Homo sapiens: one gene and its partners. The main gene of each other region encodes a partner of the protein of the gene in region 3 in a complex. Each region holds a gene or a part of one and is shown on either strand. Other genes may lie near its edges. The genes, in order: UBE2J1, FAM8A1 and HERPUD1.

Region 1 (7,395 bases), on a different chromosome or scaffold from region 3:
TCTGGTGAAGGAACCTACTAAACTAGTATTCTAAGCACTCTACTGTATTTCAAATATATTTGCTTGATATCCCTCCATAATATTTTCTCCTGAAATATATTAGAAAAGTGTTAAAATAGAATGAACAAGCAAGACCTATCTTGAACATAGGAGAAACTGAGAAGAAAAAAAAAAAAACAGAAGCATTTTCTCTCCTAGATCTTTCAGCTGGCTGCCAGATGGTAAGCAAAAGCATAACTATTAGACCTGCAATTGCACTAAGGTGAGGCACCCAAAAACTGAGAGCTCCTTCCTGCCTGACATTTTTGTTCAGGTAACCAGAGTTTAAACTTGTGTCCCTGGTAATAACACAACTAACATCTCCATTACATTAATACCAGCTACATCCCCATGGGAAAATGTTCCATGTTTCTTATTAACCAATCCCAAGGGGAAATCCTGGGGGTAAAACAAGAGAAAAAACTATAGCAGGTGGTTTTTTTTTTTTTCTGAAAAAAAAAAAATTATAAAGTATTCAAGGTAATTAACAAAATGTTTACAATAAAGTCTACACTTGATCTTAGCCAAAAGACTGAGAAGCGATGCAATAAAATTTATATATGGCTTTCTGAGGTTTTTTTTTTTTTAAATTTTACTCTAGGAAGACATTGATGTAAAATAAGCTGATTCACACTATCAGTTTAAGTGATAATAACAATGCAACTGGCAAAACAAGTAATCCAGTTAGCTAATGGCAGATATTTTAAGTATAGAAAAGTATATGTGGTATAATGGGATATCAGTTCTTAAAATATCTATGCCTTATAAACAAAACCTCAAGGTAAATATACCAAAATCTGTATCATGTCCTTTTCTAAGCAGGAGGATTATGGGAGATTTGGATTTTGTTCATATTCCACATATTGAACCACTGTATTACTTTTATGATCAAGAAGAAAATCATTTAAAAAAAAGTTTCTAGTGCTAAAGAATAAGTAAAATGTGTGAACCAAGAATAGCTCGGAGGTTGTAAGAAGCATATACTTTTTTCAAATAGTGGAAAACTCAAATGTCACAAAACAGCCTGATTCTTTTTAGTGTAGCAAAAAAACCCAAGTTTCAGAGTCAGAAGACCTGGACTTGAATCAGGGTTCTTTCATTTTCTAGATAAGTCACTGAAGTTTTTTTTGAATAAGTCATTGAAGCTTTAAGAACCTTTATAAAATATATTTCAAAGTATTCAAACCAAATCAAGAAATAGATGAAAATCTAGAAAAATTTCCTCTCATTAACATAAAAAATCATATGCCAGAAAGATAATAATCTGTAGTTGAAAAAACTGAGAAGTAGACACTTGATTTCTCTGAGACCTAAATTATCTTCATCTGTAAAATGGGTATAAATAATCAGTGCCACTTCCAAGGCTGTTATGAAGAATAAATGAGTTGATGTTATGTCAAGTGCCTGATAAACAGTAGATGCTAAAAAACTATAGTCCAGACCTTGCACAAGGATGCAAATGGCGGTGGAGAAAGGGCCTGCACTTCAAAGGACTTCTGGTTCCTAACTAAGGAAAAGATGAATTACACAGGTCAAGGATTGTGGTTCTAAGATGTTTTCTAAGATTCTGAAACATTTTAAACCTCATCTTTTGTCATTTTTATTAGTTACGAAGTCGGCTTTAAGGATTAAAAAAAAAAATCTTAAAATGAAAAAAAAAAGGAGTTTTCCTTAGGATCATCAAAAGTAAAGAAAAAATTACCCCAAATTTGATCTTGGATTAAAACTTTACCTGATATAATTTGTAAATTTTTCTTGAAAGAAATAAGTGTTCTAGTTTAAAAAAATAAGCAATTTTTGGATAAGAAATTTTCCAAGGAAATGAGCTCCCTTCCCACCCAGCTGTCAGTCAAGAATTTAGTAACCTTTAAATAAAATTACTCTTCTCTTTGTATCTGTCTTTTTGAGACAGGGTCTCGCTCTATCACCCAGGCTGGAGTGCAGTGGCACCATCATGACTCACTGCAGCCTGCTCCTCCTCTTCCATCCCCCAGAGCTCAACTGATCCTCCCTTCTCAGCCTCCAGAGTAGCTGGGACCACAGGTACGTATGCCCGGCTAATTTTTGAGTGTGTGTATATTTTTAGTAGAGATGGGTGTCACCATGTTGCTCAGGCTGATCTCGAATTCCTGAGCTCAAGTGATCTGCCCACCTTGGCCTTTTTTTTTTTTTTTTTTTTTTGAGATGGAGTCTCATTCTGTCTCCCAGGTTGATCTCGGCTCACTGCAACCTCCGCCTTCTGGGTTCAAGTGATTCTCCTACCTCAGCCTCCCGAGAAGCTGGGATTACAGGCATGCACCACCACACCCAGCTAATTTTTGTATTTTTAGTAGAGACAGGTTTTTGCCATGTTGGCCAGGCTGGTCTCCAACTCCTGACCTCAGGTGACCTGCCCGCCTTGGCCTCCCAAAGTGCTGGGATTACAGGCATGAGCCACCACACCTGCCAGCCACTTCTCTTTTCTCTGTAAATGTCTCTGCTGAGAGAAATTTTGGAATTGGCTTTGATCTTGGAGCATGATTGTAATTAAGCTTTGATATGTGCCCATAATTAAATTGTTATGGGCACATGTCCACAATAAATTGTTGTTATTGTTGTTAACCAAGGAAGGAGAGATTGTTATTCCTACTGAACCAGTCCTATGGGAGAAGAGCCCCAGGGAGCAGTGGAGGTGGTGGTGGCTAAAGGAGAGCCCCAGAGGACAACTGCACCCAGAGATTGATGGACCTTGGAGGCTGAATAGCAAAAGGCTTCTAGTACTCAGCTATCAAATAGGAACGCATTATATACAGCACCTGCTTTGCAGGCCTTGCTGTGGTAGGGCCTACTGCACAAATTAGGGGCTTTTGTAGAGCTGTGGCAGGAGAGGGTGTCAAGTGTCAGTTAATCTGAAGATTCAACACAATGAATGAATGAAGCAGCATTGGAGTTTGGTTTTGTTTGCATATCTCAGTCAGTCAGATTATCAGTTTACTATACAGAAAACAACATCAGGGAATGATTTAAAATATACCATCTAATTTTAGATATCCTTCACTTTTTTACTCCCAATTTCATCAAGAAACTCACAGATTTAGATTAACTTTAACAATAGAAAACAAATCAAATTTAAGAGTTTATGTCTTTATATAACAGAATAAAACTTGCCCAACCTGATTAACCCTTTCTATCCTCCCCACCTTCCCAATCCCTCCCTCCTTTCCTTTAGTAAGGTCCCTACTCCTTAAGTCTTTTGAACTCAGTCCTCTCTCGATCCCACACATTGGACAATGAAGCAGTAAGTGTGTCCTTTGAAGTTTAACCTTTCATATTTGTATGCTTTCCCTCACATTAAATGTAATTCCTTTTTTTGACAGCTTTTACATCTAAACAAACCAAAAAAAACAAAACTCCTGCAATGCCTAAAACATGTCGTGCACCTAACACACTACCCGAGAAAAAAATTGTTATGAATATCCAACTCTGGCCAGAGCCGTGGCTCACGCCTGTAACCCCAGCACTTTGGAAGGCCGAGGCGGGCGGATCGCTTGAGTCCAGGAGTTCGAGACGAGCCTGGCCAACACGGTGAAACCGTGTCTCTAACAAAAATACAAAAAATTAACCGGGCATGGTGGCACACACCTGTGGTCCCAGCCACGCTGGAGGCTGAGGTGGGAGGATCGCTTGGGCCCGGGAGGTAGAGGCTGCAGTGAGCCAAGATCGCGCCACTGCATCCCAGCCTGGGCGACAGAGCGGTGACACCGTCACACACACACACAAAATAAAAAATAAAAAAAATCCTATTCCATTTCCTTGTCACTGGCTTTCCCCCTCCTCACTTAACCCCCGCCCCTCGCAACAGCAACTGAATCTAAAAACAAAGCCTTTCCCAGACCCTGCGGGACCGCGCGCGGGCAGCCGGCTGCGGACAGCTTTGCAGCCGGAGCCCGGCGCCCCCTCCGAGCTCTCGAGGGCCCGGGGGTCCCGGACCTCGCCTACAGCGGGCAGGGCCGGGACGAGAGGACGAGGACGCCGCTCGCTCCTGCACCTCCCCAAGCCGGCTTCGCCGGGCGGGCGGCGGCTGGGTAGTGACCGACCGCCACGAAGCTACTGCCACGTCAGGGCAACTTCACAAATCCCGGACGAGGGCGGGTGACGCAAGCCGGGCGGCCGCGGCAGGGCTGGGCCTGCGACTACCCGAGGAGGCTGACCTCCAGCCCGGGCGCCCGGTTCAGCGCCGCCCCGGCCGGCGCCGGTGCCTGCCAGGCACTCAGGGAGGCGGGGGCGCAGTGGAGGAGGCGGCGCCATCGCGAAGCGAGCGCCTCGCCCGCACTCAGCCTTGCCACCCCGCCCGCAGTCCAGGCTGGACTGGGCGGCATTTGCCGAGGCTCCTCGGCCAGGCCCCGTCCGCCCGAGCCGCGCTGAGACCCGGGCAGCGGCCGCGTGGAGAGGAGGTGGCAGCGGCCCGGGAGGCCGGAGCCAAGCCAGCGACCCACCATGGAGACCCGCTACAACCTGAAGAGTCCGGGTGAGCAGGGCTGGGGCCCCTGGGCGAGGAGGGCGGAGTGACCCTGGACCCCGGGGTGGTCGCCGCCTCGGTCCCCTCGCGTCTGGCGCCACTCGCGGCTCAGCTCCTGGTTTCGCGCTCTACGCGAGACCGCCGCCTGCCCGGGAAGTACAGGCCGCAGGGCGAGGTGGCCGGGTGGACGTCCGCTGCCAATCCCCCGGCCGGCCAGCGCGCCCCGCAGCACCCAGCCTCTCCCTTTTCTCATCTTCGCCTGGTCCCGTAGAGCTGGGTCAGAAACTCATCCCTGAGAACAGGTGTAAAGGTGATGTCGGTGGGCGATAGTCATCAACCCCCTCGCTGTACCTGGTCGCTATTCCCTCCCTGTCGCTGCCACCGGACTTCTATTTACTTCTATTTACTGCCGGCTGATTTACTCACATTTGAGGAGTTGGTCGTTTAAATATCCTATTTGCAGCACTTGGGCGAATACAATTACAGACATAAAGGAAATGTTCTGTAACTAAACCAGTTAACTATAGAGCTAAAGCAAAACAAAACAACAACAAAAAAACACCTCGTTGAGCCCTGTTCTTGAGAGCTAACCTTGATTTTTGCCAGACTGGCTAATATGAAATGTATCTGTATTCAGTCGTAGCGATTCCTTTCCTGCATTTAATGATCCTGCTTTATATTTACACAAGCAGTCCCAGCAATCCTAGCCTCTAATTACTTTCTGGTGCATTATAAAGATAAGCAACTAGCTTTCTCAGCTTAATAAAACAGGCTTGAAATGAATCATTGGATCCTCTAAATGGTATTTTTTCTATCTGTACCTTGATACATTTTGTCAGGGGGAAGAAACTCCACAGTTAACTCTGCATGATAAACTCTAGGATATTAGTGATGATTTCACCAACTTTTGCTGTTGCTTAAAATTTCCTTCCAAAAAAAGCTGTTTCTCAGTAGGAATTAGCAAGACTAGCATCCTTGTGGAAAGAGTTGACACTGTGAATCTTTGGGTTTTTTGTAAGGTTTCAGAATATGCAAAAACCCCAGAAAAGCCTGAGGATATTGATTGGAGGGAGCTTTGTTAGCCTGAGTGCTGTCAGGCTAAGAAATGTCCTTAGGTGACCAAGTGTGTAGAACTGGTCATAATATTTTAGGAGCCACTGACTCCTTAAAAAAATCTGATGAAGACCTGGCACGGTGGCACACGCTTGTAATCCCAGCACTTTGGGAGGCTTGAGCCCAGGAGGTGGAGAGCAGCCTGGCCAACATGGTGAAACCCCGTCTCTACTAAAAACACAAAAATCAGCCGGGCATGGTGGTGGCGCACTCCTGTAGTTCCAGCCACTCGGGAGGCTGAGGCAGGAGGATGGCTTGACCCGGGGAGGAGGTTGCAGTGAGCCGAGATCGCGCCACTGCACTCCAGTGTGGGCGACAGAGCGAGACTCCATCTCAAAAAAAAAAAAAAAAAAAAAAAAAAAAAAGAGAATCCCGGGGTGGGGAGGGAGGAAGAAAAGACCAAAGAGAAAGAGGGAAAGAAAAGCTTAATTTTTAAGCTAGATGGTAAAATGATTGAATTATTTACATTGTGGTATATTTAACTGGAGCTGTTTGGGTAAAAATGTATGGTGGCTCCCTGGTCACACGGTTCCTTAGGACAGCAGAGGTGCTTAGTGAAAGGTCCAGAGGATAATGCACATGTGAGTAGTAGTGCAGTTTAGAATGGAGAACTGGTGGAACCCAAGAGATTGTTGTCAGAAAACATCGCTCAATTTCGATAGGTTAGACTTAATACTATGATGATAAGCTTTTAAAAATCTCCAGAATTTTGTATATTTCCAAAGTATGTGAACTATTGTCAGCTGGTTGAGCTTTGGTTGACATGCTTCTAGCTGTGTCATAAATTGCTTCCTTTTTCTGGTTTCATTTCCTCAAAGATAGTGTTGCTGCTCTAAAAAAAAAAACACAATGCTTCTTAAAAATCTATTTTTGTTAGTGTGTGAATTATTTGGAGTTCATGGAGAAGTTGAATTAGGTAAGATATGGGACTTACTGAAAATGCTGGGAGGCATTGTGAAAATACTTCCTTCCTTTGCTTTATTCTCAGTCCTGTGGTATTTTTAGAGTAATGCCTGTGTGAAGGGGAGCAACTGAAAACTCCAATTTCCTGTGTATGGCAGGGTGCACACACACACACACGTAAAATACCAACATACCAGACAAACAAAAAACAACCACACAATGTGAGGGATATAATCTTTTACTCTTTATCTGATGTGGGATTGTCTTTGATGTATGAGTGGAAAGATTAAGTGAAGACAATACAGATAGCTGGTTAAGGGCCAGTGTACTAGCATGTGGATATAGTAAATTTTTTCATTTCATAGGTGGGGAAACTTTTTGCTTTATGGTTTTTTTTTGGAATGGACTTGTGATTATGGATAGAGCTGTTGTGTAGGATCACCTCACAGTAGTTGTCTGTGGTAGTTGTCAGTAGTTGTCTATGGATCTGCTACTGTAGTAGCAGTAGTTGTCTATGGATCATGCTACTTGTCTATAATCTGTCAATAGTTGTCTATGGATCAAGCTACTTGACCCGTGTTTGGGTCTGCTCTGGCCAAGGAAGTAGGGTCTTATAGTACAAAGTGAAGAAATGTGTATAAAGCACCTCCTTTGGCAGCTTCTTCATCAGGGGGCCATTGACATGTGCAGCAGGTGGTGGGAGTATAAGAGACTGGTGCAAAAGTACCCACTGCCTCCACCAGAAGTCTAAGAGTTACCTATCCATGCCATTGGTGTCAACTGCACCTTCCCACTAATCCACTCAAGGTTTCATGTCCAACTCAGGCCCTTCTCGTAAGCTA
Region 2 (7,166 bases), on a different chromosome or scaffold from region 3:
TGTATTGAGCTTGCTCACTTCTTTATGTGGATTCTTATTTAATCTTAATACCAAGATGAGGTGTAGAGATTAATACCACCATTTTATAGAGTTTGAAATTTGGGTTTATGAAAAGTTGAGCACAGAACCTAAAATGTTACAAAGGTAGTAAGTGACAGAGTCAAGATACAAGCCTGTGCAGTCAAATTTCAGGGTCCTTGCCAGAAACCTGTTACTGTGATTCCTCCCTGTCCCTCCCTCTCACTCCACTCCACATCCAGTGAAATACCAACTCCTTTATGTTCAATTTTCTGAATAGCTTTCAACCCCAGACCTCCTCACTGCCAGATCATTTTTCTTTTTTTGAGACAGAGTCTTGCTCTGTCACCCAGGCTGGAGTGCAGTAGTACAATTATGGCTCACTGCAGCCTTGATCTCCTGTGCCCAAGTGACACTCCCACCTCAGCCTCACAAGGAGCTGGGACCACAGGCATGCTCCACCATGCCTAGCTAATTAAAAAAAAAAATTGTTTTTTGTAGAGATGGGGTCTCCCTATGTTGCCCAGGCTGGTCTCAAACTCCTGGGCTCAAATGATCCTCCTGCCTTAGCTTCCCAAAGTGCTGAGATTACAAGCATGAGCCACCACACCTGGCCCATTTTTTATCATCATTGCTTCTCCCTACTCCGATTACTGTCGTCTCTTGCTTGGATTATAGCAGAAGCCTTCTAGTGGTAACTCAGTCTCCTGTTTTATCTCAATCCAGTCTCTGATATAAAACCAAAGTGATCATAAATCCTGGTTCTGTTCCTTTCCTACCTTAAAACCCTTCAATGGTTTCTCTTTTTAAAATGTTTATTGTTTTTTTAGAGATGGGGTCTGTGTTGCCCAGGTTGCTTTCAAAATCCTAGGCTCAGGCGATCCTCCCACCTCAGCCTCCCAAAGTGCTGGGATTACATGCGTGAGCCACCATGCTCAGCCCCTTCAATGGTTTCTCTTTACCAGCAGGATAAAGTCTGAATTTCATCATGTGGTTTATACTCAGGAGGCTGTCTCAACCTCCCAAGTAGGTGGGACTGCAGGTGCATACCACCACACCCTGCCTTTATTTCTTAATCACTGCCACCTCTCACATTTAGTATATGAGCCACACCAAACTGCTTACAGCTTCTATCATATTCTCTCTTTCTCCAAGACATTCTCTCCTGCTGTTCCCTCTTTCTGGAACGTTATTTCCTCTTCTTAGTCTGGCTAACTTCTCTTCATCCTTCAGAGCCTCATCTAACTGTCTTTTCTGGGAAACCTTCACAAGGTTAAGTGTATCTGGTGTATGTTTCCATAGTATCCTAGGTTCCCCATCACAGCACTCATCCCACTTTATTATTGCTATTTATTTATTGTTCTGTTTTCTTTGCTAGGTTAGACCCTCCACGAAAGCAGGGACCGTGTAAATTCATTCACCCTTATTTCCCCCGTGCTAGTACAGTGTCTGCTCATGATAATGCTGCTTATTTGTTGAATAAACTAATGAATGCTTTATGATACTAGATGGTTGGGAATCTAAAGATTAGTTTAGAATTTCAATTAAAATGTATGACTTGCACTAATGAAAAAAAAGTCAGTGCTACTGTTCTGGTAACTAATTATTTATAACCCCAAACTATTATTTTGTGTAGGGATATCTCTAAGTTTGCTATGCATTATATAATAGAAGAAATAGATGAAGACACATCAATGGAAGACTTGCAGAAAATGATGGTTGTGGCACTTATATACAGATTATTAGTTTGTTTCTATGAGGTAAGCTACTGACTTCAGCAAGAATTAATATTTAACAATCTAATTTTATGTTTTTACATTTATTTTTTTGAGACAGAGTCTCGCTCTGTCACCCAGGCTGGAGTGCAGTGGTGTGATCTTGGCTCACTGCAACCTCTGCCTCCTGAGTTCAAGTGATTCTCCTGTCTCAGCCTCCTGAGTAGGTGGGACTACAGGTGCATACCACCACACCTGGCTAATTTTTGTATTTTTAGTAGAGACAGGGTTTTGCCATGTAGGCCAGGCTGGTCTCAAACTCCTGGCCTCAGTGATCTGCCCACCTTGGCCTCCCAAAGTGCTGGGATTACAGGCATGAGCCACTGCACCTAGCCAACAATCTAATTTTAGATTATCAGCCCAAGACGAAAAAGTAATCGAAATTTATAATTATTCATGTCTTTTCCACATGTCTACTTTTCTGTTTTTTTTCCCAAATTTTAACTAATCATTAAGTAAAAACTTTTGGAAGAGAGACATTTTACAATTTCTTTGTAATATTTTTCAGTCTTAGAAACTCAAATAAAATTTCACTTATAGATTGTGGTCCAAAAATATACTTGTAAATTGCAATGTAGTTTTCTGCAGAAGCAGCTTACTAGAAAGTATAGTAGTCATAGAGAAATATTACAGGAGACAGACATCTTGTGGTATTGGACATGTTAGAGACCTACAGAAATGCATAAAGTTAAATGGTTAACTTTTGAGTATTCTATGCAATTCTTTCAACTTGAAAAATTTAAAACATGAAATAATATGGTGGGAAAAGTTTATCTTTAAAATTGGTATAGTTGAGCCAGTAATTTTTAAATCATCCTTCTTTCCTTAGATAATTTGCATTTGGGGAGCAGGTGGAGCTACCCCAGGGAAGTTCCTGCTGGGGCTTCGAGTTGTGACATGTGATACATCAGTGCTTATTGCACCAAGTCGGGTTTTAGTGATTCCTTCCTCAAATGTTAGCATTACAACGTAAGTCCTTTTCTTAGCTTAATCTACTACATACTTAATGAAAATAATGTGTTTTAGAATATTGGGGTTTTTTTCTTCATAGTAGATAGGCTTATATTTATTAAGTTAAAACAAAGTTTGAATATTTATTTCAGTTGTGTTACATGATTGTAGACCTCTTTTACAGTACACATTTTCAAGATGATTTTTTTTTTTTTTTTTTTGTGAGACGGAGTCTCACTCTGTTGCCCAGGCTGGAGTGCAGTGGCACAGTCTCGGCTCACTGCAGGCTCCGCCTCCCAGGTTCACGCCATTCTCCTGCCTCAGCCTCCCGAGTAGGTGGGACTACAGGTGCCCGCCACCACGCCCGGCTAATTTTTTGTATTTTTAGTAGGGACGGGGTTTCACCGTGTTAACCAGGATGGTCTTGATCTCCTGACCTCATGATCCACCCGCCTCCGCCTCTCAAAGTGTTGGGATTACAGACGTGAGCCACCATGCCCTGCCTCAAGATGATCATTTTATGAATTATAAGTCACAATACGAGAGGATGATTTGGGTGTTGATGGTGTATTAGTGCTCCACAATCAGCTTTATTATTCTTTGGACCTGTGGATGTTAGGTCAGGTACTAGTCTGCCTTGAGTCTCCATTTGGCCATGCCTGTCATTATTCCATCTTGAATAGGCAGCAGAGTTTTGACAGCTATGCATTCGTGCATCCTTCTCCTGCTGTTAGGTGAGAGCTTGTAATACTGCCAGTATTCAAGGTTAGCTGTTGGCATCTAGCGCTGGGGGAAGGTACAACCAGTGATAATGGAAACTGTGGAGGTCAGTGGCTGGTAGTCAGTTGAGCCAAACAAGGTATTGGCTGCAATTTTTGCCAGAATGATTCAGAGCTGGATTGTTACATCAAGAAATATAAACAAGTGATTCTAGAAACCTTGGTTTTGCCATCTTCAAATTTTTCTTAAAATTTGGTAGTTATAGCCGGGCACAGTGGCTCACGCCTGTAATCCCAGCACTTTGTGAGGCTGAGGTGGGCAGATCACGAGGTCAGGAGATCGAGACCATCCTGGCTAACATGGTGAAACCCCGTCTCTACTAAAAATACAAAAAATTAGCCGGGCGTGGTGGCGGGCCCTGTAGTCCCAGCTACTCAGGAGGCTGAGGCAGGAGAATGGCATGAACCCGGGAGGCAGAGCTTGCAGTGAGCTGAGATTGCACCACTGCACTCCAACCTGGGCGACAGAGCAAGACTCCATCTCAAAAAAAAAAAAAAACAAAACAAAACTGGTAGTTATAAACCTACCTACTTCTTTTAATAAGAGTCAGTAATGGCTAATGTTTATTGAGTACTTTTTATATACCTGCACTGTTAATAACACTGCATATGTATTAATTTAATGCTAACAACCTCATAAGATAGAGACTATTGATCTATATCTATAGTATCATAAGATACTATAGGTAGTCTCTATCTATATACTATAGGTAGTATCTATATACTATAGGTAGTATCTATATACTATCTATAGTATCATAAGATAGATACTATTGTTCCCTTTTTGCAGATGTGGAATACAACTAGTAATTGGTAGACGATGGATCTGAATTTAACTAGTCTGGATTCAGAACCCACACTCCTAGCCACTGTACTTTTCTGCAGCCCTTCAGTGCACTAAAAGGCAGAAATCTAACATAAGTAGGATAATTCTCCATCCTGAGTGATTGTTGAAAGCTTTTAAAAGCTTTGCTTAATCACTGGATCCCACAAAGGAAAATGCTGATTAAAGAACACACAGTACTTTAAAATGCATGTTTTTTCTATAAGGTAGACAAATGGGACTACAGTAAGCATACTCAGAAAGTACTCAGAATTAATGTTCATTTCTTCTGAGAAAATACTAGAAAGCTCTGTAAACCATTAATTCAATATTCTGAGACATGTTTATTACTGCTTTTTATGTTGTTGAAGTCTTATTAGAAATAGCCCAGGTGGTTTGATCATGATACAGTGCTACTTGAAAATATATCAAAGGTAAAAATTCTCTCAACTATACCTTGAATGTCTTTTTCCCTGTAGACTTCTGTAGAGAAGTACAATTGTGTTTTAAATGTCTATTTTGAACTTGATGGGATACCATTAATCTATATGTGGTTTGATGTGTAACTTACCTGATATTTTTGTTTTAACTTTTTAGGTCCACTATCCGAGCTTTGATCAAGAATTTTTCAATTGCTTCTTTTTTCCCTGCTTTCATCACACTGCTGTTTTTTCAGCATAATCGAACAGCTTATGACATTGTAGCAGGAACCATTGTGGTAAAAAGAAATGGGGTCAGATGATGCCCCCCAAAACCCTGATTTCCACACACTAAGACTAAATTATGTATCAAGGCCATCAGTATCCCTGGGTTACACTAATTGATGATTTAGAAATTAAAGCAGTCACTCCAGTGTGATGCAGGTGACTACTCTGAAAGTATTGATTATACTTGAATGCCAAAGAACTTGTCCAGAAGAAAAACCTGTTAAATTCAAGTATTAAAATTTTTAGATCAAAAAGGCAAATGATTTTATAAACAATGGACAATATATACTTTCTTAAGATCTAAGGTACTTTCTTAAGATCTAAGAATTTGCTGAAAGCATTTTCAGCTTTGAAATCTCCAAATGAAACTTTAAAATTTATTTTGGTTTATCCCAAAATAATGGAAAATGTCCAGTTGTGTTTTGTAAACACCTATGTAACTCATCTTTTAGTTTACACTTCCTGGGGAAATTGTCTTTGGTGTTTAGAGGAGGGAATGAGAACACAAATTGGATAATCCACTGTCTCCCATCCCAGGAGGTGGTGAGTTGGCTACAAGAGAAAGGGACAAGTGAGGCAGGCCTAGCAGTTCCCTTACCTGAAGTTTTCAAATCCATACTGCAGTTCCCTCTCGTAATGATGTAACTTTACAACTATTCTTAATGCTTGAACATGTATTTAGGGGCAAGTTTCTCATGATGATGAAAAAGTATCAAGTCATATTGCTATGTTAATTGGTTTTTTTTTTTAAAAGGTAAGTTAGTGATTACTGTTAATGGTGGGGGAGTAAGTTTTCACTGTAAATTGAACTTATAATTTATGTGCAAGTGTTTTCAGTGCCCTGAATCAAACTATAAATGTGGGGAGAAATCACCTCCATCAAACAGTTGCATATTTACTGTAAAAGTATTCCCAGTATGTGTGCAGCATGAAGAAAGTATTAGTGCTTCTCAGTGTTCTCAGTGTAAATTCTATTTATATACAGCATATTCACATACTACTTTCCTTATATTTTATATAGTTCTATGACTGTTGAAACATCAAGGAGTTAAAAAAATCTTAATATTTCATGATTAACTCTAAGTACTATTAATTAATAGCTTGCGAAATATTAGCAATTTTCCCATTATGGACTATTCTCTCTAAAGCAAGAGAGACTAGCATTCCCAGACATCATTCTAGGGTCTTTAAGCTCATTTTGGGTCTGCTAAAGTTTGGGGGGAAATGTTACGCAAAGTGATACTGTGTATGTTGCCATTTTGCTTTATTCTTCTGTTGAAGCAAAATTGTGGGGTTTTATTATGTGTGTGTGCTTTTCCTAGATGTCCCAGTTAGCTGTGCTGAGATATACCTGTACTATTTATGGTTTAAGTTTTGATTCTTAGGTATTTTCTCCAGCTCTGACATTGTTTTCCAAAGACACACTAAACTGCATTGCACAGTTCAAAATTTGATTACTTAAGGGATCAATCTAGGTGGTGTTCTTGGTCTTAAATTTAACAGCAAACACAGCACATATCTATTATCACTATATTAATTTTCAAAGGTTTTTCTTTGACGTTTAAAACTGTGACAACAGATATTCACATTTGATTATAGAAACTTAATGTCTATTAATAATTTTAGTACAAAATTTCATAAACCGTGTTTTTCAAAATAAGTTTATGTCAAATCCAGCTTCCCAGAAACACTAATAATTAAGTACATCAATGTACTAAATAAATCATTCAGTTGCACCCATGGGGAAGATTGTGTTACTGCCCTTCACAGTGAAAAAAAGAAAAATCTTTCATTTTTAAAATTAGGAGATGTTACGTAACTTGGCACTTTAGTAGTGTATACACTAGCATTAGTTTATACACCACTTTTGCCGCTGGGGAATTCAAGTTGAAATGTCCCTCAATCATATAGGTCTGGAATACATCTTTCATTCATAATTTCTGCTCAGATAATTGAATAGTTTGCCATCGAGATTATTTTCATTTATACTATAAAACAAAAGCAAACTAGTCCAGTTTAATTTTTTGTACTTAGAATATTGCACATTTTCTATATATGAGTTATTCAGATTAGTATCTATGTAGGTTCAGTCAGATCCAACCATGGATTCGAG
Region 3 (7,000 bases):
ATTCAAATTACTTGTATAAAACAGTTTATTCTGTGTTTAGGAACTTGTAGGGGTGAAATGCTGACCTGTGTTACTCTTTCTTTCCATGATCAGCGTCCAGAGGACCAGAGGTTAATTTATTCTGGGAAGCTGTTGTTGGATCACCAATGTCTCAGGGACTTGCTTCCAAAGGTACATCACTTACACATTAACTTCTGAATGTTTTTAAGCACTCACCAGGTTAGGTTCAGGTCCTTAAGTACCTTCGTATTACTTTTAGCAGGAAAAACGGCATGTTTTGCATCTGGTGTGCAATGTGAAGAGTCCTTCAAAAATGCCAGAAATCAACGCCAAGGTGTGTCTGCCTCTTCATGATGGTAACAATTTGTATCATTCAGACTTTCAGGGGAGTAATAAAAGAAGTTGGATAAAACGTTTATTGAGAGACTGTATGGTGTTATTACCAAGTAATATTTTGTTTCTTTCCTAGGAATTAGAAACTGTATTATCAACACAAAGTGATGAGTTAATAGTAGCAGATTGTTCCGTTAGTGCTGTAGTAGAAAGGTGGAGTTACATATTGCACTATCTTATGGGATATGATTTGATCTATGGTTACTGTGTATCTAGATTACTGAACTAACACTAATCGGGTTTTTATTGAATTTAGCACATAGCAAGTTTCTTCAAAGGAGTCACTAATTTTTATAAAGAGTACAAAAGTGAATATATTTCCTTTGGAAATTTTCATTGTGATTAGTTGGATAGGAAAAGATCAGAGTTTTTATCAAGTGATCTTTAAAGAATTTTTTTTTTTTAAAAATGGTCTCGCTGTGTGGCCCAGGCTTTTCTCAAACTCCTGAGGGCAAGCGATCCTCCCACCTCAGCCTCCTGAGTAGCTGGGACTACAGGCATGTGCCACTAGACCTGGCTCTAAAGACATATATGACACACGAAACCATTTATTTTTCATTTCACAATGTTTATTCACATATATGGTATTAGTATTCTAATGTAGTGATGCACTCTAAATTTGCATTATATTTCCTAGAACATCTGAACAGAGCATAGGAAATTCCCTATTTTGCCATTATCAGTTCTAACAAAAATCTTAAAAGCACTTTATCATTTCATTTCCCTGCACTGTAATTTTTTTAAATGATCAAAAACAGTATCATACCAAGGCTTACTTATATTGGAATACTATTTTAGAAAGTTGTGGGCTGGGTTGTATTTATAAATCTTGTTGGTCAGATGTCTGCAATGAGTAAATTTAGCACCATTATCAGGAAGCTTTCTCACCAATGACAACTTCATTGGAAGATTTTAATGAAAGTGTAGCATACTCTAGGGAAAAAATATGAATATTTTAGCATCTATGTATTGAAAATTATGTTGAATAAATGTCAGACTATTTTTTACATAACGTTGCTTCTGTTTAATTTTGTCACGTTCAGAGGTGGGGGGTAGGAGATGTAAGCCCTTGACAGCAAAATAATTCCTTTTGCTTGATTTCAGACAGTTGCATCAGCTCCTTTGTTCTGTGTTCATGTTACACTTATTTAGGTGGCTGAATCCACAGAGGAGCCTGCTGGTTCTAATCGGGGACAGTATCCTGAGGATTCCTCAAGTGATGGTTTAAGGCAAAGGGAAGTTCTTCGGAACCTTTCTTCCCCTGGATGGGAAAACATCTCAAGGTGAGTGTTATAATAAAGATCTTGGCTTATGCAACATGAATGTTCCTCGTTTGCATCAATTTAAGAATAAGGTATGTTTACACGTATATAATCAGAACTTTTAAACATACAGAATTTTGCTTTATAAATAGCTTCGCTTTAAAGATCTCTTATATATTTAACTTTTCTTAATACACAGCCTTTTAGTACACACAAATTTAAAAAGTAGGTAATGCATATATTGAAAAAAAAAAGAAAATGTAGGCGTTTTATCCTTCCATTGTGCTGACCGCTTGGTTGCCGTCATGATAGGAAATTAGTGCTGCTGCAGGAGAAAACAGCTGTCGTAAGCATTGTGCAGCTGCTTTGCTGAGTGGCTTTGTGCTTTATTGTAACAATGGGTGACAACAAGGGAGAGACTGTTTAAGAAGTGTCCTTCCAAAGACTTGGGGGTACTAGGAAAATTGGCCAATTTCTTATAACTATTAAAGCTTTTCTTTAGAGCAAAAGTCAGAACTAAATGCTCTGTTATTTGGATTTTTATAGCTCTTGGAATACATTGTTTTTGGGGAAAAATTCATTAACTGCAAGTTGCAATTCTGTAACTCTCCAATTCTCCGTCCCCCTTTTTCTAGTACTTTTTATACACAATATTTTATAAAGCCAGGTGTTTTAGGAATGAGTTTTTCTTCCTTTTCCCCCTTAATGGAACTTTCAAATATACACAACAGTGGGGACTGGATAATTAATCCCCACACCATCACCCAGGCCTAATAAATAACAATCAGAGTTTTACCATAGCTCATCTATTACCCTTTCCCTTTTTTTTAAAAAAAGAGTATTTAAAAGTAATTCCCAGGCATCATGTTATTTCATCCCTATATTCTTCAGTATATAACTATGAAAACCTTTTAGTTATCTTGTATATCTAGAATGCCATTATCAGATCTAACAGAAATCTTAAAAGCACTTTATCATTTTATTTCCATGCACTGTAATTTTCTTAAATGATCAAAAACAGCATCATACCAAAGCTTACTTGTATTGGAATACTATTTTAGAAATACTCTGTGTATGGAATTTAGTTAAAAGATTGTCAGCATATAAATTGGATAATTATTGGATAGAAAATTATTGGTTAGAAAAACTTAAAACTACTTCCCTTATTCTGATTCAACTATTCTTAACTTGAGAATTGAGGCTCATATTTGACTCTCTGAATCTCACCATATTTAAACTTGATTTCCTTTAACAAATATTTATTGAACAGCCAGTACATACAACTTTGCTTAAGGATATGAGTTGACCTGCAGGAATGACCACATAACCAATTTCTGATCTTTGGGCAATTCTATTATGGTTTCAATTTTGTGATGTGCTACTGAAGAAATTGACTGTGTAAGAAGCACAAAGCCAAAGATGACTCGCATACACCTGCCCTGTGAAGTTGAGGGCTGTGTGGCCTGATTAAAGAAGCATGCATTTGGCCGGGCGCGGTGGCTCACACCTGTAATCCCAGCACTTTGGGAGGCCAAGGTGGGCGGATCACGAGGTCAGGAGATTGAGACCATCCTGGCTAACACGGTGAAACCCCGTCTGTACTAAAAGTACAAAAAATTAGCCAGGTGTGGTGGCGTGTGCCCGTAGTCCCAGCTACTGGGGAGGCTGAGGCAGGAGAATGGTGTGAATCCGGGAGGTGGAGCTTGCAGTGAGCCGAGATTGCGCCATTGCACTCCAGGCTGGGCAACAGAGCGAGACTCCATCTCAAAAAAAAAAAAAAAGAAGCATGCATTTGACATCAGACCAGCTCTGAAATCCAGCCCTGCTACTTACTAGCTCAGTGACCTTGTGCAAAGCCCCTGTCTTCCCTGAGCTGTACTTGGGTTCCCCTTGTAAAATCTCCTTCATGAGATTGCTGTGGACCCAGCAGCCTGTACAGGACCCCCGGTGGTCAGTAAGCATGCACAGGTGATACCACATGCACACTTCACTATAGATTCAGATGGAGGATGGAGGAAGAAGTGGATATTGGGAGGATGGGAGAGATTTCCTTCAGGAAAGACTGGGAGAAATGTGGCTTTTGAGCTGCTCTCTAAAAGATGAACAGTGGGTTGAGACCTGCAGTGAGACTCAACAAGTCAAAACTGAGGTGGGATCTACTTAACCCAAAAAGGTTGTTTATATATCTGTGCACTCAGCAAGCAGGTGGCAAGGGCTGTTGTTTTCCTGTGGGATGGGACTGTGGTAGAAGTGCTGTGTCATTTAGTACCTTCTGTGCTTGTGGTACATGGGTGCGTCATACAGTCATTTACCATGTAACTGCCGTAAATTCCATTCTTCTGTCTCTTCGATTTGAATTCTTGATTTTAATTTAAACTTAGTTTTCATTTGTTCATACTCAACCCACTCAAAATGAGTGTTTTTTCAAATCTATGTATAGGCCTGAAGCTGCCCAGCAGGCATTCCAAGGCCTGGGTCCTGGTTTCTCCGGTTACACACCCTATGGGTGGCTTCAGCTTTCCTGGTTCCAGCAGATATATGCACGACAGTACTACATGCAATAGTGAGTCCTTCCCGCCATGCTGGGTGTGGCCAGGGCTCCCGGGAATTGAAGGGAATTTTATCCATGTTACCTGTAAAGTTCAGAATGGAGGGATGAGTGTATTTTCATCAGTCTGCAGAGCCCTGCTCTGTTTGGTCTGTGGGTAGAGTGTAAATGACAGCTGCTACCTGATTTGTGTATTGACACAAGGGTGCTTTTGTCTGATACATAGTTTAGTGACTTTATTTAGAACATGTTACTTTCTTTTCAATTTGTGCTATCTTCAAAGTTTTGTGAGGATTTTAATTTGCTACTGTGCCATAATCTTACAGTGGGCTTGATGTTTAATTTCAGGTGAAATTCACCTTGTGGCTTTTCTTAGAAAAGGCATTTATAGATATAGTTAGTAAGGAAGTTCTTCACTAAATTGAAGAAAAATCAAAGGCATATCTACCTACTTGAAATTCTTAACAGTAAAAGACTGCTGTGTAAATAAGCCACAGACTTCACGGTGCTTTGGTCTCAACAGTATCTGCCTCTGTCGTTTTTATTTTAGTTTAGCAGCCACTGCTGCATCAGGGGCTTTTGTTCCACCACCAAGTGCACAAGAGATACCTGTGGTCTCTGCACCTGCTCCAGCCCCTATTCACAACCAGTTTCCAGCTGAAAACCAGCCTGCCAATCAGAATGCTGCTCCTCAAGTGGTTGTTAATCCTGGAGCCAATCAAAATTTGCGGATGAATGCACAAGGTGGCCCTATTGTGGAAGAAGATGATGAAATAAATCGAGATTGGTTGGATTGGACCTATTCAGCAGCTACATTTTCTGTTTTTCTCAGTATCCTCTACTTCTACTCCTCCCTGAGCAGATTCCTCATGGTCATGGGGGCCACCGTTGTTATGTACCTGTAAGCAGATGGTTTCTCTAATATAAATTACACTACACTGTGTTCACACTAAGCAGATTTTGCTCTTTTTGTTTCTTGTTTTTTTTGAGATGGAGTCTCGCTCTGTCATTCAGGCTGGAGTACAATGGCACAATCACTGCAATCTCCGCTTCCCAGGTTCAAGCGATTCTCCTGCCTCAGCCTCCTGGGTAGTTGGGATTACAGGCGCCCACCACCATGCCTGGCTAATTTTTATATTTCTAGTAGAGACGGGGTTTGGTCATGTTGGCCAGGTGGTCTCGAACTCCTGACCTCAAGTGATCTGCCCACCTTGGCCTCCCAAAGTGCTGGTATTACAGGCGTGAGCCACCACTGCGCCTGGCCAGATTTTGCTCTTTTTTGAGCAGTCTCAGTTACTGTAGAAGGAGATGTGTTTAAATAGTATATCACTCTGTGGCTGGGCGCAGTGGCTCACACCTGTAATCCCAGCAGTTTGGGAGGCCGAGGCAGGAGGATCACATGAGGCCAGGAGTTTGAGACCATCCTGGCCAATATGGTGAAACCCCGTCTCTACTAAAAATACAAAAAATTAGCCGGGTGTGGTGGCACGGGCCTGTAATTTACTTGGGTGGCTAAGGCAGGAGAATTGCTTGAACTGGGGAGGCAGAGGTTGCAGTGAGCCAAGATCGCACCACTGCACTCCAGCCTGGGTGACAGAGCAAGACCCTGTCTTAGAATAAATACATAATAAATAGTATGTATTCTGGCACTTTCGATACAAGGAATTCATGGCTTGGTTGTATGGTCCCAAGAACATATCAATCCTGTGTTAATATAAGAATATTATCTTGTCCTCTAGATAAGCTACCTTACCTTCCAGGCTCACAAACCACAAGTATGTAGCCATACTGAGGCATGGAACAGAAAACTGTATTTGTTTTGAATGAGAACACATTTGCCTTTATCAGACCACAGCTGCCTTCCAGGGTAAAGTCAGGCACTGACTGTTAGCATGGCCCTGAAAGGCAAGGGAACCTTCACATACCTGACATTTGGTTTTAGCTGTGGCCCGAAGCAGTAGTTCTCAACTGGGGGTGGTTTTGTACCCTCTCTCCCCAGGGGACATTTGGCAATGTGTAGATATTTTTGGTTGTCACATCTAGGGGAAGTGGTCCTGCTGGCGTCTAGTTAGTAGAAGCAAGAGTGCTGCTGAATTTTCTACAATGCACAGGACAACTCCCACAGTAAATATTTGGCTCAATATGTCACTAGTGCCAAAGCTGAGAAAGCCTGGCCTAGAGTGATGGGTCTTCGTGGTTGAAACTAAAAGAAGAAATTTTCCTGTATAGTAAAAATGGATTTTTATTTTAGCTTTTAAAAATAAAAAAGGAATAATTAGAATATAATGAACACTCAAATATCCACAATTAGTCATTGTTAATATTTTATTATATTTAAGACTTGGGATTTAATTGGTTTCTTCAAATAAAACGTTTAGTTAATATTTTCTGTAGTCTCTAGAATCATATATTTAAAAGACCAAATGTAGGTTGTCATTATGTTATATATAATTATAGCTTTGTAGGTATATGCATTCTCCCCGCTCTGTTCAGGTTTTCAAGGGTAAGGTTTAGTTCGTCATAAGCATTTATTGAGTGCATACTATGTGCCAGGTGCTGTTTATATGGCTGGGTGTGCAATGATGAATAAAACACAGTCCCTGCCTTCAAGGACCTTACAGACTGGTGAGAATGTCTGGGAGACAGTGTGATCAAATGCCTCTGTAGATGGGTCTTGCAGTGAGCTTATCAGGGTGCTGCTGTGATTAGAGGTGGGGAGCCTTGGATTCTTGAGTAAGTCTCACTGTGACATCAGCTAAGATGGACTTTTATGTGCTTCCTTTGAAGGCATCACGTT

Evidence for each region.
Region 1: HERPUD1 (region 3) and UBE2J1 share a complex: the UniProt entries of both Homo sapiens proteins name them as parts of the HRD1 complex.
Region 2: HERPUD1 (region 3) and FAM8A1 share a complex: the UniProt entries of both Homo sapiens proteins name them as parts of the HRD1 complex.

The regions. Positions count from the first base shown.
Region 1 is NC_000006.12:89,349,690-89,357,084, reverse strand, and holds the start of UBE2J1 (ubiquitin-conjugating enzyme E2 J1), read left to right. Parts: upstream 1-4,362; 5' UTR 4,363-4,515; coding exon 4,516-4,546; intron 4,547-7,395. UniProt on the Homo sapiens protein: Catalyzes the covalent attachment of ubiquitin to other proteins. Functions in the selective degradation of misfolded membrane proteins from the endoplasmic reticulum (ERAD) and is essential for cells to recover from ER stress.
Region 2 is NC_000006.12:17,603,252-17,610,417, forward strand, and holds part of FAM8A1 (protein FAM8A1), read left to right. Parts: intron 1-1,654; coding exon 1,655-1,778; intron 1,779-2,622; coding exon 2,623-2,762; intron 2,763-4,943; coding exon 4,944-5,088; 3' UTR 5,089-7,166. UniProt on the Homo sapiens protein: Plays a role in the assembly of the HRD1 complex, a complex involved in the ubiquitin-proteasome-dependent process of ER-associated degradation (ERAD).
Region 3 is NC_000016.10:56,935,142-56,942,141, forward strand, and holds part of HERPUD1 (homocysteine-responsive endoplasmic reticulum-resident ubiquitin-like domain member 1 protein), read left to right. Parts: intron 1-93; coding exon 94-171; intron 172-259; coding exon 260-334; coding exon of another isoform or gene 335-336; exon of another isoform or gene 337-350; coding exon of another isoform or gene 351-356; intron 357-1,545; coding exon 1,546-1,676; intron 1,677-4,095; coding exon 4,096-4,218; intron 4,219-4,753; coding exon 4,754-5,104; exon of another isoform or gene 5,105-5,260; intron 5,261-5,724; exon of another isoform or gene 5,725-6,990; coding exon 6,991-7,000. UniProt on the Homo sapiens protein: Component of the endoplasmic reticulum quality control (ERQC) system also called ER-associated degradation (ERAD) involved in ubiquitin-dependent degradation of misfolded endoplasmic reticulum proteins.